Linked DNA regions of Homo sapiens: region 1 is linked to region 2. Evidence: fine-mapped expression QTL. A gene starts in region 2. The other region holds a variant in brackets. All regions are shown on one strand. Distances are from middle to middle. Region 1 overlaps ICE2 (interactor of little elongation complex ELL subunit 2). Region 2 holds the start of ICE2 (interactor of little elongation complex ELL subunit 2).

Region 1 (5,332 bases), 58 kb before region 2:
ACCGGATACTCATGTTTATCAATGTGGCTTTGCCCTACTGGCATATGTCTGTTAGGATTATGTGTAAATACTCTCCAGTGCTGTATATTATTATTTTTTGAGACGGAGTCTCACTCTGTCGCCCAGGCTGGAGTGCAGTGGCACAATCTCGGCTCACTGCAAGCTCCGCCTCCCGGGTTCACACCATTCTCCTGCCTCAGCCTCCCGAGTAGCTGGGACTACAGAAGCCCACCACCACACCCGGCTAAGTTTCTGTATTTTCAGTAGAGATGGGGTTTCACCGTGTTAGCCAGGATGGTCTCGATCTCCTGATGTCATGATCCACCCACCTCGGCCTCCCAAAGTGCTGGGATTACAGGCGTGAGCCACCGCACCCGGCCTCCAGTGCTGTATATTTCTAAATAAGCAAAATCTAGGATAGGGAGAATAGAAAATATTCCTTCTCCCCACACCCAAAAGAAACAGATTTTGAAGAAAAGGGAAGAAAGTCAACCCACTAATCACAGAATCTTTATAAGGGTTCTTCACTTTCAAAACAGCAATAAATTTATACTCAGGCTTCCCTCCTACTTTCTTAAAGAATCAACCAGGCTATAGCTCATATATTGAAAGCAAACACATCTGCCAAGGCAAACTCTTGACTGTTTAAATCTGTTTGATGAAGTAAGTAATCTAGAGATCCACCATCTTAGAAACACAGGTCTGGTTCTTGACTCTTTTCAGTAATTTTTGCCTGGCAGGGCAGATCCAAATCCCAGATAGATGCCTTGTAAATGTGTCTGCCATTATATACCTTGATAAGTAGACTGGACATGAGTGAAGGGGACATGGCAACAGTAGATGGATAAATGAAATGGATCCCCTTTATTTCTACATCTCAACAAGAAACTCAATAAATCTTAATATCAAATACGTTAAGGTTTGATTAAAAACTACTACATACCAAACAAAAAAACAGAACAAAACAAAATACTACTATATACCTATAATGCATAGAAAACGTCTTAACATCTTTACAACATGCCCATTAGGAACTACAGATGCAGTATGCTAATGAAAAGTTAAAGTTTTCTTTCCTCTCCCTCCCCTAAACCTGTTCATAGCATATGTGATTTAAAAATATGTTCACAAATTCTTTCCAAACTTCTCCCTTCAAGGGTGGAGCTTAAGTGTGGGCTTAGCGACTTACTAATCCTTCAGATGACTGCAGCCCTAGCCAAGAGCCTGACTGCAACTTCATGAGAGACCTGGACTTTTGACTTACAGAAACTGTGAGATAATGTTTGTTGTTTTAAGTAGCTAAGTTTTGGGATAATTTATTATTCAGCAAATTGGTTATAACCAATATAGCACACAAACCTAGAATCCAAAAGTAGAAATGACTAAAAAAAAAAATGAACATTTTAAATTAACTTTCTTCCCACTCTAACCACACTATTTTCTCAATGGGTTAACACCATCATTTACTCAGTATCTCAAATGAGAAACCCAGAAGCCATACTTTACTCTCCTTACCAACAACAAAACTGAGTTGTCATTTTTTTTTTTTTCCTTATACATCACTTGAGCCCACTCCTATTCTTGCTGCTTTAATTCTGGGCCATTGCCATTTTTCAGTTACTACAACACAGGCTCCCAACATTTCTTCTTTCGCTTCCCAGCTCCATCGCATTCTCTAGACTAATGCCAACAAGAGCCCTTTTCAAATACATATCTGATCATGTCAGTTAATTAACCTTCACTACTGGTTCCCACATTGCACAGGACAAAGTTCAAATGTCTTAGCACAGTGTTTCTGTCCCTATCCTGCAGTTTTCTCTCTCATCTCCCATGTTCATAGCCTATAATCTCTCCAACTTTCACCTTTTCATAGGCTGCTTAGTTTCACTTAGTTTCTTTGTGGAAGACCTTTAATTTTCCCTTATAAATCCTACTATTTTTAAAAGACTCAGCTCAAGTTCTATCTCAGAAAACCTTAACTACCAAGATCTGGTTAGATGACTTGCTTACTTTATCAAAGCACTTATCACATAAAGCAGTATAGTGTCTTCCACTAGAATGTGATCTCCTGAAAAAAAAAATCTTTGATACCTACACATTCATGCATCTAACTAATATCTGCTAAGCAACTACATGACAGGCACTGTATTAGGTGTTTATTACTTAATGGTGAACAAAACAAATATGCCCCTGTCCTTGCAGAGCTTGTAATCTATAAGAAAAGAAAATCAAAGAAACAAATAAATATGGTGAGATCTGAAAAAACAAGGCTATGAGAGAATAACTGTGGGGACCTACTTTGGAGTGCATGGCACATAGTTGCACTCACTTACTGAATTAAACTGTTTTCAAAGAGGTGTGTATAAATTACACCTTCACTGCTGAGGTATAAATGGGCCAGGGTGATCACATCCTTGCTAGCCCTAAGTCTGATTTAAAAAAAAAAAAAAAACTTGCTCATTTTTTGAGATAGGGTCTTGATCTCTCACCCAGGATGGAGTGCAGTGGCACCATCATAGCTCACTGCAGCCTCAAACTCCTAGACTCAAGCGATCCTCCCACCTCAGCTTCCCAAGTAGCTGGGATTACATCCTGCTAAACATATTGTCAGTTACTTCTTGGCTTATAAATTCTCAGTACTAAAAATCAAGAAAAAGAACATAAAGCATATCAAATGTATGTTAAAAAAGGAGGCTTCACTAAGCACAAGCAAAAAACTACCTTTATATATGATGTTATTCAAATACATGGATAAGATAACACATTTTATGATGTAAAAAGTAATATTTAAAAATTAAAAGGCAAGTCTTTCTGGTATTCAGAAGTCTGAAGCAACCACTGTCCAGCTCTTTAAAAAGAGCACATTCCATTCTGGTGCACACAAATGTACATTAAAAATAAAATAAAAAAGTGTAAGAGTACATTTCAAGGGAATCCCTGCCTCTCCCTTGGCTCGCTGGCAAATGATTCACAACCAAAACATTTCTGGGATATGTGACTTAAGGAATAAAAAAACTCAGTGTTTTATAAAAGGGAATGGCAGGATGAGGAAATGATTTATCAAGATACAATTTTACTAATAATTACTTCTCAAATAACTTAAAAATGTTTTATAACAAAAAATCAAAATGAAACAAAACTTGGTAGTTGAATATAAGTATTTTCAACTGTTACAATACTTGAGGAGATTTTTCGGTCTAATTTCTCAGAAATTAGGCCAAAAGAATAGCTATTCTTTACACAGAATAGCTAAAAAATTTCAA[T/C]GTGAAGCAATTATCTAGGATTACAAAACTTATATTTTACAAATGACATACATAATTTCTGAAAATTTTAGTGTAAGGGTTCTAAAGATTAAACAAGCCTGTCCTGTTTTTTTTTTTCTTTGAGACAGGGTCACACTCTGATACTCAAGCTGAGTTCTGTGGTGCGATCACAACTCACTGTAGCCTTGACTTCTTGGGCTCAAGCAATTCTTCTGCCTCAGCCTTTTGAGTAGCTGGGACTACAGGCACACCCCACCACACCCGGCTAACTTTTTTATTTGTAGAGATGAGGTCTGTGTTGCCCAGACTGGTCTCCAACCCCTGGACTCAAGTGATTCTCCCGCCTCGGCCTTGCGAAGTGCTGGAATTACAGGTGTGAGCCACCACGCCCGGCCCTGTCTGTAGTTTCTTAAGTCCAAATTTGCTACAGCAACATCAGTTGATTATGCCCTTTTCCAAATTCATCTGCAGGCCCGGAAAATTTAAATCAATCAGTATAGATGAGGATAAAAATAGCTTATGCTGGCCAGGCACGGTGGCTTACCCCTGTAATCCCAGCACTTTGGGAGGCCAAGGCAGGCGGATCACAAGGTCAGGAGTTTGAGACCAGCCCGGCCAACATGGTAACACCCTGTCTCTACTAAAAATACAAAAAAAAATTAGCCAAGCCTGGTGGTAGGTGCCTGTAGTCCCAGCTACTCGGGAGGATGAGGCAGGAGAATCGCTTTAATCCAGGAGGTGGATGTTGTGGTGAGCTGAGATCATGCCACTGCACTCCAGCCTGGGCAACAGAGCGAGACTCCATCTCAAAAAAAAAAAAAAGCTTATGCTTTACCACATTAACCTTGTCATCTGGAGCAATGACACTGACTTTTTTTCTGGAAAACATACCTATCTCTTTGCTTTCAGCAGTGTATTTCAACACTCAGCTTGAATCTAGAGATAGAGGCATCTGTCATCAAACATGTTATACCACCAAATTTTTTCTTTTATTAAACAAACTGATGGTTGCCAAACAAGAAGTCAGTAATCTGACTTTTCAGAGGCAGGGAGTTTTTATTTTTGGCTTCTGTAATGGAATTTCACCAAGTTTTTAAAGGTATTAACTTTATTAACCTGTAACATTCATCATTTTAAAGGAGTATATAAAAACTGTCAAAATGGGTCAGAAACAAAGTTTGCGATGCTCATAATCATCTTCAGCAGTGGCAACATTTAACTTTTTGAGTCAGTCGCAACAGACTGGCAATATAACTAACACAATACATAACGATAAGTGTTGTTCTTGATAAAAAACCAAATTATTTTTCTATTTACAATTTTTAGAAAAGGTTTAATGTAAAAATATTTTTCTTCTTTATATATTTCCCTGCCATGATAATGTTAAAACATATCAAGATCCTCCTCAAACTTCAAGGGTGAAAAGCATACCATTCCATTTTAGTTGAAATATTCCTTCACATAGCCAACACATTTTTTCAAGGCACTCTAGCTACTACAGGAAAAATGTTCCTCTTGCCTACTGATTATTTTCCCTCAAACTTATCTAAATTAAACACTGTTATAACTGTTTTTTTAAATTTAGTTTTCCATGGTACAGTCCTCAAGTTATTTTTCTTTTATGTGGAGCCACTCCTTCAGTTTCAACTTGCTGAGCAGGCAAGCAACTGCTTTTGGTTTCCATGGAAACTGGATTCCTGTGGCTGCGTGTAGGCATTCTCGTTCCACCAATCTAAGAGATGAAGCAGAGAACAGAATAGCTTAATGTATCTACAACATACCTATATACAGTCAACTCTGTAGTATTTATACATGTATTAACCACCTTGCAAATAAGCTCTTATATATTTTTCATCTCCAGCTAGCTGGCTGTTTCTAAACAAGTTTTAATCTGACACATTTTTAAGTACTAAACTTTCAAATAACCATCAGAGAAGTTGATAGATCTGAGTAGATGGGGAGCAAAGTGAATGGGGAAACTATTCTCTGTGTTAAATTTATTAGAGGTTGAAAAGATAAATTAGAAATCAAGGGAATGACAGGCCTTATGTGTGATGTGTTTGAAATAA
Region 2 (5,365 bases):
AAACCCAGGCCCATTATGGAATTCTCCAGCTCCAATAATCAGCTCTACATTTTCTGTAGTACACAATTAAATAAATGTCACAGAGACTGGAAAGTTAAAGATAGAAAAGACTGAAGTATAATCAAGGGTCTGTCAAAGGCTGGCCTCACTTCTGGCTCTAGGACATAACATTAAGATACTTGGTTGCTGAAAACACTTCTCAACTTATTTTTGTTTCATGCACTACTGTGCTGAGCCAAAAGACACTACAAAGACTAAATAGCCTAGCTATTTTGTTTACTTTGGCAAATGGGATAACTGGTTTGCTAAAACCACCTCAAAGGTGATATGATTTTTCATAACACCATAATTAATTTAGAGACTAACATATTATATTCAATGCTTTCCATATAGTTAGGCATCCAAAAATGCTGTTTGAATGAAGGAATTAAAAACTTGAAAACACTGAATCCATTAACGTTACTAGGGAGGACAAAGGTCAGTAAAATTCCGTGGAAAAGGATAATTCCAAGGGCTACAATATTGTGCAAAGGTTCTAAACCACAACTAGTTCCACAATGCCGGTGGTATACAAGAGCATCTGTGCTACATCTGAATGCATACTTTATAGCACTGGCAAGGAATGCAAATGTGCATACCTCTTACCTAATCAAATGGTAACTTCTGGGTGTCCTAGTGCCCAGATAGGAAATTCTAGCATATTTGCTCCATACTCTTCTCCTTTTTAAACTGTTCTTAAAGGCATTTATCCAAAAAACTATATTAAGGTATTAATGGTAAAATTAGAAAGTCTTATTTGCTATGCATCAGTATAGTTTCTTATTACCTTGTCGTGGTATTGTATCTGTGACATCTCAATAAATTCTTAAGTTTCTGCACATCATATAAAAACAAAGTAAAGGGTCTCAGGGATTGTGAGCTCCCTGGGGATGGGAGTGTTGTTAGCAATAAACAAATACTCAATGAACATACTGACTTAATAGTCTGAGTCAGGTACTATTTTAATACTCTTTGTAACCATTTATAACATTTGATCCTCCTTGGCTGGCTTAGTAAATGTGTGTTAAAATGAACTAAAGCAGCACATGTATTAGCTAGATGGCTACAAAACCACTATATTATTTAACCAGGTTCTCTATTTGCAAAGTTCTCATACACTTTTAAAATACAGTCTATGCATTTATATCATTTGATATAGATTTCAATATAACAAAAAGCATGTCTATTCTTAAAGAGGGTCTTTTTTATTACTTGTATGGAAATGGGCCAAGGTTCTTGGACTCAAGAAAATTCCAGTATCTCTCCTTCACAGGAGACCAACAATAAATACCTGAGGGAATTATACCTAAAAATAATTTGAGTGCTGAACTGTGTTGTTCCACTATAGGAGTGGAAGTACAGTCAGCCATAACTCTAGCATTCCGTATGTGAAGATGAGGATAGGGTAAATTCTGAGACCCTAAACTTGTATTTTCTGTTTCCTCCAAATCTCTCTATGCCAGAAATCTATTTTCTTATGTCAACCATCAGCCCCACTACACTCCTCTTCAGTGGATTACAAAGTGGCTACAACTCACCAATTCAGTCCTGGTTCACTTATGACCATCTTGGAGCTCATCTTCCTAGATTTCTGCTTCACTCTAGCTCACAGTTCACAGCTGCCTGGCTGCGAAGGCTCCAAGAGGCAGGATCCCTCCAGAACTTACTCAGCTGAGTAAAAACAAAAGGCCAAGATCAAAAGCAAGTGATTGGCTAGGCCAGGTGCTATTAGGTGAGGAAGAATCTCTCCCTAAACATCTACCCTCAACAGACTGTGGCACCTAAAACAGAATACAGCAGACCCAAGGTTCTTTGTAGCAGAGCAGCAATGACGATACAGGACGAGCCCTTTTCCATTTAATCTACGCCGGGAGTGTTACTCTCAGGACACTCACTATGGAAATAAGAGCTGAAACAGAACGGTGTTCTCATTGCTTACATACTAGGCCACTTGATGGCATGGAACGGGAAGTCAACTCAGTTTTCCATTCCCTTACTGCCAAAATAAATCTTTTGTTTTCCCGACCATGCTTTGTTATGGGGCAGATTCTGGCAGGCACTTTATGACAAAAGCTACCTCGATATCAGGAATCTTAGGCCTTTCACAAAGAACCTCACATTTGAGAAGACTTGAGGTCAACTTAAGTGACATTTCACAAGATCACTTACAGACATCATCAGGACTACAAATCAGGCTTGATCTCTCATGTTCAGTACTTCTCCTGTGACCCCAGGCAGACTGATAAAGTGACCTGCGAGAACCTAATCAAATTTAGGAGTCGGTCTCTCGACACCGAACGGGCCCGACCGGCTCCCACTTAATCTACCTCTCACACTTCGACCCAGTGTGGAGCTGGGGGGGAATAGTCGAGGAAGGCAAAAGAAACGGCTGAGGGAAAGGGGACGCAAAGAGAGGGGAAACAAGGTTCCAGAAAAGCAGGTAAAAGGGCAAGCAAAGCAGGGGTAGGAGCCGCGCAGAGCCAGGAGCAAAGGGTCCTGGCCCGGCCGCCATGTTCCCTCCTCCCGCCCCTGCATGAGCACGCCCGCTGGCCCGGCAGCGCCCTCCCGTCCGCGTCTGGGCTGCAACACAGCCTTTCCGCCCACCTCATGGTCCGCGGCGGCTCTTGCCCAGGCCGCAGCCACACACCACACACGCTCCACCCCACTCCTCACATTGTCGCGCGCGCCCAAAAAAGACCATATTTAAAGGATGTGGCCGCGCCGACTCGGCCCTGCGTGATGACGTCTCAGCGACATAGTGGGCGGGGCCTTGCGTCTTGACGGCTGCTCCCCTCCTTTCCTCCCGCCACAAGCGCTCGCTGTGGTTCTGGCAGCGAAGTGCGAGACTGGGCTCGCCAGGCGGAAGTGGTTGGAGACTGCGTGTTTTCCTAGAAAGTCCTCGACCTTCGTCGGGGAGAGGAGGGGAGTGATAAATTGGAAGGCGGACAAGCGACAAGTGCGGTACTGGAAAGACCCAAACATACTTGGTTGTGACCTCAGGCAAGTTTCCTGACTTCCGTAACCCAAACTCCTCATATGTAAAATGGAGATGAAATTGTTACTGCTGCATCATACGGTTTTTTGGAAAGGATTAAATGAAACAAAGGAAGAAGCTGTGCTCTGCACAGTACCTGGCACATAGTAGGGCCTCATTAAGTGCTCCTTCACCTCCGCTCCACTCCCCATCCAGTTTTAGCTGTGAGTTCAAACACTAGTTTTGTTCTCATCCATTACGGAAAGATTTATTGACCGTAAACAGAGTACTTTGTGCTTGGTGCTGGGTACACATGGACTAAGACTGAATACTGATTTTTCCAGTGCTTTGGATCTCTGGCAATCTAAGACATTTACATTAAATACAATAGAAAGTAATAAACTACATAAGAAAGGTGTATAGATTGAGGTTAGAGGGAGAGGAATAGCTAGTGTGAGGGACAAAACGCAGTTTTGAATAGTATTGAGTACTTACATGTCAGTTGCTGCACTGAGCACCTGCCGTGTGAGCTCATTTGAAGAATGTGGGTATGTGGAATGAAGAGAAAGGGCGTTCTAGACAGACCAGCACAAGTGTCAAAAGACAAAAATTTGACACATCTAAAGATCTCAGTTGGCCTTATTGCGATTCTGGAATCAGGCAACACTTCATTCCATAAAATGGAATGAGTGTCCCAATGAGTGGAACAGAGGAGGTTGGCATTACGGACAGAAAAAAGGTCTGTAGAAAGTAGAAACAAAGAACAAAAAGCAGATTGATCATTTCAAAGTTACTTTCCTGGTAAGGTGGAGACAGACAGTACAATAGAAAGATAACTGATTGGTTAACATCAGGTTACTTCAAGTTACTCTTTGCTGTAGGGACTAAAACAGAGGAAATTCATTATCTTGCTGATTGAAAATTGAAACTGGCCTGTTACCTCTGTCTCCTGATTTCTTGGAGGGCCACATAACTCAGTTTCGGTGTGGTGAGCCTGAGTGATACCATTTTTATTTTAGTCTGGTCTCTTGGGGTCTAGTGCAGAAGTTCTAAACAATGGCCTCCTATAATTTTTTTTAATACAAGGAACTGCATAAACTTATTGCATAAACAGAATCTAGTGTGTGCTATTAGGGAAGCATGTTCTACATTTTATTTTAAGACAGAGTCTCCCAGACTGGAGTGCAGTGGTGTGATCTCAGCTCACTGCAACTTCTGCCACCTGGGTTCAAGCGATTCTCCTGCGTCAGTCTCCCTAGTAGCTGGGACTACAAGTGCATGCCACCACACTTGGCTAATTTTTGTATTTTTTTTTTAGTAGAGATGGGGTTTGCCAGGGTGATCTTTAACTCTTGACCTCAAGTGATCTGCCCACCTTGGCCTCCCTAAGTGCTGGGATTACAGGTGTGAGCCACTACCCCTGGCTGACATTTTAGACTGATTTAGAATATTGTTAGAAATTATGTTAATGTAAAAAATATGCTACAGGAAACCATAGGTAGTTTATTTTGCCTGGAATGCAAGGTCTCTGAAGAGTAGTAGAGGAAAAGGGGTTGGAAAAACTGGTTGAAGCTAGAACACGTAAGATTTTATAAGCCAGACTAAGGAAGTTTGACTTTATTGCATAAGAAATAAAATGCTAGGAAACAAACAAACAAAAAAGCTTACATAATGACACAATCAGAACTGGCTGGCTGTGCTTCAGGAAAGTTCACCTGGCAACCTACGGAATTCATTGAAGGGAGGAGGCCAGTTAGGAGACAGTGTTTGTGAATGCTTAAAAAAATCAACCACTACAATGCCTGGCACTGTGCAGATAGCATTTCTTTTTTTCTTTTTCTTTTTTCTTTTCTTTTCTTTTTTTTTTTTTTTTTGAGATGGAGTCTCCCTCTGTCGCCCAGGCTGGAGTATAGTGGGGCGATCTTGGCTCACTGCAACCTCTGCCTCTCGGGTTCAAGCGATTCTCCTGCCTCAGCCTCCTGAGTAGCTGGGATAACAGGTGCATACCACCACGCCCGGCTAATTTTTGTATTTTTAGTAGAGACAGGGTTTCACCATGTTGGTTAGGCTGGTCTTGAACTCCTGATCTCGTGATCCGCCCACCTCGGCCTCCCAAAATGCTGGGATTACAGGCGTGAGCCACCATGCCTGGCTGCAGATAGTATTTCTTATTAGGTAAGTGATGTGGATGGCTTGTGTAGGACAAAGGCAGCGTAAAAGTTCATGTGTTGGGTACTGTCTCACAAAGCATGCAGTCAGGAAGAGTTGGGGACACCTGACCTGGCCTGAAGGAACTGCTCTAATTGTTTAAGAGCTCATGCTGCTGGGAGGTACCTGCCCATGGTAGTGTGA

What was found. PIP is the estimated chance that this variant, and not a neighbour inherited with it, causes the effect. A credible set is the group of variants that fine-mapping cannot tell apart.
Region 1: its variant is the best candidate, but not a certain one, in a credible set for the expression of ICE2 in whole blood (TOPMed, PIP 0.90).

Annotation. Positions count from the first base shown.
Region 1 is chr15:60,418,768-60,424,099 of GRCh38, forward strand. ICE2 (interactor of little elongation complex ELL subunit 2) reads right to left here. Exons shown (of 16, transcript NM_024611.6): 16 at 842-4,995. The coding sequence ends at 4,867. Among named protein-coding and RNA genes, the nearest start is that of ANXA2, 23 kb to the left of the region's middle. The variant T/C (reference allele first, on the strand shown) is at 3,264.
Region 2 is chr15:60,476,360-60,481,724 of GRCh38, forward strand. ICE2 (interactor of little elongation complex ELL subunit 2) reads right to left here and starts at 2,783. Exons shown (of 16, transcript NM_024611.6): 1 at 2,644-2,783; 2 at 1,578-1,710. The coding sequence starts at 1,618. It overlaps RORA-AS1 (RORA antisense RNA 1), which reads left to right and starts at 2,819. Exons shown (of 6, transcript NR_120342.1): 1 at 2,819-3,039. RefSeq lists enhancers at 1,615-1,734, 2,057-2,584.